2 linked regions of the Homo sapiens genome follow. The protein of the gene in region 2 purifies or fractionates together with the protein of the main gene of each other region. This does not show direct contact. Each region holds a gene or a part of one and is shown on either strand. Other genes may lie near its edges.

Region 1 (3,656 bases), on a different chromosome or scaffold from region 2:
AGCCCAAAGTTTTGCTCGATAATCCACTTGACTGTTTTAAAAAAAAAGAAAAGACATATCAGTTCATATTTCAGTTCAATTTTACAAAAATCCTAATTTCAATAAAATTAATTTCTTCCTAAAACATGAACATATTCAAATTGATAGTCAAAGTAACTTTTAAAAGCCATGTAGTTTTAGATACTGCCAATATCTAATTCACACTTTTAACATATACAAGTTTACCTAAATGGTGAATATAACTTTTAACATATAGTAAATATTGGCTGGGTGCAGTAGGTCACGCCTGTAATCTCAGCACTTTGGGAGGCCTGAGGCGGCAGATGGCTTGAGTCCAGGAGTTCAAGACCAGCTTGGGCAATATGGTGAAACCCAGTCTTCACAAAAAATACAAAGAATCATCCAGGCGTGGTGGCACATGCCTGCACTCCCAGTTACTTAGGAGGCTTAGGTGAGAGGATCATCTGAGCCCAGGTGGTCAAAGATACAGTGAGCCACAATCACAACACTGCCCTCCAATCTAAGTGACAGAGTGAAACCATCTCAAAAATATATATATGCACACATATATACAGCAAATATCAATAAAATTAAAATAATCCTATTTTTTTCTTCAAGTGACTTCAGTAACATCTACACTCAGACCTAGAAAACATTTATTCAGGTCAAAAATATATTTACTGAATGCCTAATAAGTACCAACCACTATTTTAGGCGCTGGTGATACAAGAAAAAGAGAACTGCTCTCATGGAGTTTACATTCTAGAAAAAACAGACAAAAGACAAGCAGATGCACAAACAAGAAAATACTTTTGGTGTTTTTTTTGAGACAGGGTCTCGTTCTATTGCCCATGCTGCAGTGCAATGGTAGAATCATAGCTCCCTGCAGCATTGAACTCCTGGCTCAAGTGTTTCTCCCATCTTCAGCCTCCCAAGTAGCTAGGACTACAGACACATACCACCACACCCAGCATATACATATACATATATATATATGCATATATACACATACATATATATATATGCATATATACACATATACATATATATGCATATATACACATATACACATATATATGCATATATACACATATACATATATATGCATATATACACATATACACATATATATGCATATATACACATATACATATATATATACACACACACACACACACACACACATATATATATATATATATATATATATATATATATATATATATATATTTTTTTTTTTTTTTTTTCCCCTCCTGTAGAAATGGAGTCTTGCTTTGCTGCCCAGGCAATCCTCCCACCTTGGCCTCCCAAAGCACTGGGATTACAGGCGTGAGCTACTGCACCCAGCCAAAAATACTTTTACATTGTAATAACAGAGATTAAAGAAAACAAAGCAGAATGTGAGAATGTGTTTAAGAGGGCTGCTTTAAAAAACAGCCTTCTTAAATAGACAACTAAAGTATGATCAGAATGAAAAGGAAGCAATCATACGAAAATATGGAGACAGAAGAATCCGGGCAGAATGCACAGCTACTATACCATTGTCAAGGTAGGAGTAAGTTTGGTATGTTCAAGAATCAGAAAGAGGGTAACAGGGTTAAGGTATTATGTAGATGAGAATAAGGAAAATGGATAACACAAGATGAAGGCAGAAATATATACAGAGGCTAGATCATACAAGGCTTTATAGATCTTGATAAGGAGTTTGTATTTCTCATTCCAAGAATAAGAAGCTACTACTGGAAGATGTTCATCATCTGATTTTCATTCATAAAACTCTAGCTTCTGGGTAGAGAACAGACTGCTGAAAGACAAGAATAGAAACAGGGAGAGCAGGTAGGAGGATATTGAAATTGCCCAGGAAAAAGACTGTGGTATCTTGAAGCAGGGTATACTACCAGAGATGGAATAAGAGGCTGTAAGAGACAGAATCTATAATGTTCTAGAGGTAGATCACCCAGATTTGCTAGTGGATTGGCTGGGGGGAGAGGGAATGGAAAGAGAAGTAAGAGATGATTCCTGAGATTTTGGCTTCAGCAACAGAAATCACAACATTTTTGGAACATCATGTCACTCAATCACAACTTTTTTTTTTTTTTTGAGGCGGAGTCTCGCTCTGTCACCCAGAGTTGGAGTACAGAGGCACGATCTCAGCTCACTGCAACCTCCATCTCTCAGGTTCAAGCAATTCTCCTGTCTCAGCCTCCCGAGTAGCTGGGACTACAGGCACATGCCACCACACCCCAGCTAAGTTTTGTATTTTTAGTAGAGACGGGGTTCCACCATGTTCGTCAGGCTGGTCTCGAACTCCTGACTTCAGGTGATCCACCACCTCGGCCTCCCAAAGTGCTGGGATTACAGGCATGAGCCACCACGCCCGGCCAATTATGACTTATCTAATGATGCAAGATGGGTTGATACACATCCAGCACCACTATTCAGAAGACACTGATGGAATCTAACAGTTTTTATAGTGCCACTTTTACATTTGGTCTCTTTATATTACCAACTCAGTACAACTAGAATGATCCTAAAATTTTACAGCTCTCTGGATTGTTTTGACTGTCCTAATTTGAAAAAATTAGTATGAACAAAAACAAAGGGATTTTTATAAAAATATGCAGAAAAACCCCGACATTTTAAAATCACATTGCCACATTAGTTTTTCTATATATTTTACTTACCATAAAGGATTCAAAACTGCACGGCAAGTGGTCCTACTACACAGAACAGGTTCATATTGAATAGGTGGTAAGTCAGGTCTCTCTTTCAGTGGTGTAAACAGGGCTGCCACAGGAACAACCATTCTTGTAGCTTCCAGTCGACTTGATGGCCAAACATTCCAACTAAATCGGACTCCATCTCGTTCTTCATTTTGTTGAATGAATTCCAAATAGGTTGTCATTGTGGAGTTTGATTCTTATTTCTGTATCAAAATTTTAAAATATTTTAAAATCCAGGATCCTCTTAAGAACGTTCAAAATATGAATGTTCTCCCCTCATTCAGCAATATTAACACCTTAGAAATCAGGACCAGCTGGGCCCCGTGGCTCACGCCGGTAATCCCAGCACTTTGGGAGGCCGAGACAGGCGGATCACCTGAGGTCGGGAGTTCGAGACCAGCCTGACCAACACGAAGAAACCCCGTCTCTACTAAAAATACAAAATTAGCCAGGCATGGTGGCGTATGCCTGTAATCCCAGCTACTCAGGAGGCTGAGGCAGGAGAATCTCTTGAACCCTGGAGGCAAAGTTTGTGGTGAGCCGAGATCATTCCGTTGCACTCCAGCCTGGGCAACAAGAGCAAAACTCCATCTCAAAAAAAAAAAAAATCAGGACCAAATGAAAATATTTATCTCAGAAAAAAATTAGCAAGCAACTCATAACAAAATAATTAATGGCTCTACCCAATGTTCACAAGGCCCAATAAGAGGTATTTAACACTTTTTTATTCACTCTAAAAGATGATGGCAAAAAATAGTGTCTTATTTCTTTAAGGATATATAGGAAAGAAATGCAAAAATAGGGGGAAAACCTAGATCCTATGTTTTCCATATCAGTTTTGAAAATTATAAGAATTCATATAAACAGATTTCAAAATTATAAAGTTCTAAAACTCACATGGTTTCTATCTGAAAAATAACAAGTTTCCACTAA
Region 2 (3,656 bases):
TGAATCAGAAAACTACTAGATGATTTATGCCAAAACTACACTCGACAATATATTACACAAGAAAAAAAAAAAAGCTCAGAACTGAGTTCTAGTTCTGGCTACACTGTGGAATTGTGTGAGTTACAGCAACTCAATTTTCTCATGTCAACAACCGGAAAAACATTACCTTGCAGGGGCATAAGAATCAGAAGAAAAATATTAAATTTTATAAACTATTGAGCACTGTGCAATCCCAAGATCATTGTGAGTGCTAAGATTATGAGAATAGATTTGAAAAACATCCATTAAAATTAGCCTAGCACAATTCCTGGCACTCAGTAAGATCAATATATATTTACTGAATGAAAAGTTATTTTACTTTAAAATCATTGCAAACACAATGACAGAATGGATCAAAACAAATTTTGAGGTATTAAGAGCCTTCTATGAAAAAGTCTAAACCAATTTTAAGCCTATTTATTTCCACAATTCCACAATGAATCAGCTCCAAATATTTCAAAACTACAAAGCCTTGCAAAGCACAATCAAATTTCTTTGTAAAAGAAATTTCATCAGCAATATACCACTAAAAGAGATAAAGTACACTAAATACCAAATGGGAGAGGAATAAATTAGAAAATCATCTGAGACCAAAAAAAAAAAAAAGTTTGAAAAATGTTTGATGTTAGACTACTGGAAACACTACAGAAACAAAAGAATAAAAGGAGATTTAAAAACGTACAACCGTGACAGGGCCGGTGGCTCACGCCTGTAATCCTAGCACTGTGGGAGGCTGAGGCGGGCAGATCACTTGAGGTCAGGAGTTTGAGACCCGTCTGACCAACATGATGAAACCCCGCCTCTACTAAAAAGACAAAAATTAGCCGGGCATGGTGTACATCTGTAGTCCCAGCTACTCTGGGACTCTGGGGCTGTAGTCCCAGCTACTCTGGGGGCTGAGGCGGAAGAATGGCTTGGGCCTGGAAGGCGGAGATTGCAGTGAGCCGAGATTCCGCCACCGCACTCCAGCCTGAGTGACAGGGCGAGACTCAGTCTCAAAAAAATAAAAATAAAAATAAAAAAAATTAAAACAGGCAACCAAGACGAGAACTAGTATTTGGTTTAGAAGCAAGATAATCCTCTACATAACCTATGTCTACGTAAGTTTACAAACCAAATTAAAAATCCACCAGTGTTTCTCTCAGTACCTTTCTTACCGGACAATTAACAAACAAAACCTAGGCAGGTGGATCCTTTGAGTCTAGGAGTTCAAGACCAGCCTAGGCAACATGGCGAAGCCCCATCTCTACAAAAAATACAAAAATTAGCCAGGCGTGGTGGCACGTGCCTGTAGTCTCAGCTACTAGGGAGGCTGAGGTGGGAGGATCAACTGAGCCCCAGTGGTTGAGGCTGCAGTGAGTTGTAATCACACACCTCCATTCCAGCCTGGGAGACAAAGCGAGCCTTTCTCAAAAAACAAACAAAACACCATCTAACATGAATGTTGGCATTAGTACAGTAAAAAGTTGTAACTAAGGCACTCTAAGTCTCTCTACATACAAATATACCGGTGGAAACGGAAAAAGAAAAAATTCACACCACCTATTGCATAGCATTTGGAAATGATTATTAACTTAGTTCCCACGAATGCCTTTACGAAAGCCAGAAATAGGAAAGGAAGGAGTATAACTGGAAACAAGAACAGGTGTGAAGCTGAGGTGGAAACAAATTAAGAACTTAGGCAAATATTCAAGTTTCTTAAAATCTTCAAAGAGCACTAAAAGAACTCAGACTTCAAATAGAATTACCCTACCCAATGAATTAGTTACAATGACAGCACAGGTCTTATTTTAAATAATGGCAAAATAACTTTTTTGAAGTAAGCTATTACTTATTTTTTAGCTCAACATTTATGTGCCAAATTAAGGAACACTAAATTTACAACCTAAACCAAAGATCAAGCAATCACTTTCATAATAGTCACTTATTTTAGGCCAGGCGCAGTGGCTTACGCCTGTAATCCCAGCACTTTGGGAGGCCAAGGTGGGCAGATCATGAGGTCAGGAGATCGAGACCATCCTGGCTAACACGGTGAAACCCTGTCTCCACTAAAAATACAAAAAAAAAAAATTAGCCGGGCATGGTGGCACACGCCTGTCGTCCCAGTTACTCGGGAGGCTGAGGCAGGAGAATGCTGTGAACCCAGGAAGCAGAGCCTGCAGTGAGCCGAGATCGCGCCACTGCACTCCAGTCTGGGCGACAGAGTGAGACTCTGTCTCAAAAAAATAAAAATAAAAATAAAAGTCACTTATTTTATTCCACTAAAGTAAAAATGAAGTAAATTAATAATCCACAAGTTCACATAAATGCAAACTGGTCAAAGTTAATACTTGCACAAAGGTCTACTTTTTTCTATTTCCTGGTTTACTACTAAAATTAGCCACAACTTAAGTACAAAGGAGCGTTGCTATAAAACCATCTTTCAGAGTCCATGTTGTACGACATTATATACGAGACTGCTTTATGACTAGACTTCTTCAGCAATGTACTGTGGGTAACCAAACACCCTTGGCTAGGATCCTCTTTTATGACAAATTCCAAATTCAAAATCCAAATATTAAAAGCAATCTTCAGCACAGTTGATTGGCTTTTCAAGGCCCTTTTAATCTCAAAATACCAAGCTAAACTGGCATAAAGTTCATCTGTATGTGTATATTTCCACTTGTTTAAACACAACAATATATATGCAATGTGGAATCCTGGACTGGATCCCAGAAGAGAAAATGGACATTAGTGGAAAAGCTGGTGAAACGCAAACAAAGTCTGGTTAGTAATGTCATACCAATGTTCATGTCTTAATTTGGACAAATGTATCATCATTATCCTAACATTAGGGGAAGCTGGATGAAGGGTATGAGATTACTCAGTTCTGTATTTCCAACTTTTCTATAAATTTAAAATTATTCCAAAATACAATTATTTAAAAACACAGCTATAACCTCTCATAATTCCCAGTCATTTGAGTAATAAAAGATTATCTAAGCCCATGAACTCATGTGAATTTCCTTTTCTAAGATGTGCTGAAAAGATGTCTTAAGTTCATATTTGCACTGGAAAAATAAATTTTTAGCAAATTTTCTATTTGCTAAGGCAAATACACACAAGCCAGTCTTACCAATTTTACTCAAAGTGAAAAATCTTGGGTGCAGGTACCAGACATCATAAATATATGGTTTGGGTTTTTTTTTTTTTTTTTTTTTTTTTAGGCAAAACTATTTTCATTTTACTATGATTGGCAAATTATGATGTATTTGATTGATAAATCTCAGATTTATCAGATTGATTCTAGTTCGTCTTCATGTGGCAGAATATGTGTTGTCAGGAGTGATTTGGTAATTCAGAAAAGCAGCTGAAGAAGCATGGAAACTTCCCTACAAGTATATGGCCACAGCTGGCTAAGGTTGGAGACAGTATTCTATCCTTGGGCCTCAGACTCACATATGTATGTACATACACATATTATTCACCCATATTTCCTTCCTTCTCCCCTCCCCCATCTGTAAACTGATATCTAAACTTTACAAATTACAGTTACAAGAAAAGTTTTGTTCCATTTGAAATACAAAAAAGATCAGGAGAAGCAATCTGCTTTTTAATTTTACTTATGCAGTAGTTTT

Evidence for each region. Proteins that work in one complex are often made in the same cells at the same time.
Region 1: the proteins of SP3 (region 2) and SEC23A fractionate together in Homo sapiens (co-fractionation; one large-scale study listed by BioGRID). This does not show direct contact.

What each region holds. Positions count from the first base shown.
Region 1 is NC_000014.9:39,093,214-39,096,869, forward strand, and holds part of SEC23A (protein transport protein Sec23A), read right to left. Parts: intron 2,927-3,656; 5' UTR 2,906-2,926; coding exon 2,685-2,905; intron 32-2,684; coding exon 1-31.
Region 2 is NC_000002.12:173,958,718-173,962,373, forward strand, and holds part of SP3 (transcription factor Sp3), read right to left. Parts: intron 1-3,656. UniProt on the Homo sapiens protein: Transcriptional factor that can act as an activator or repressor depending on isoform and/or post-translational modifications. Binds to GT and GC boxes promoter elements. Competes with SP1 for the GC-box promoters.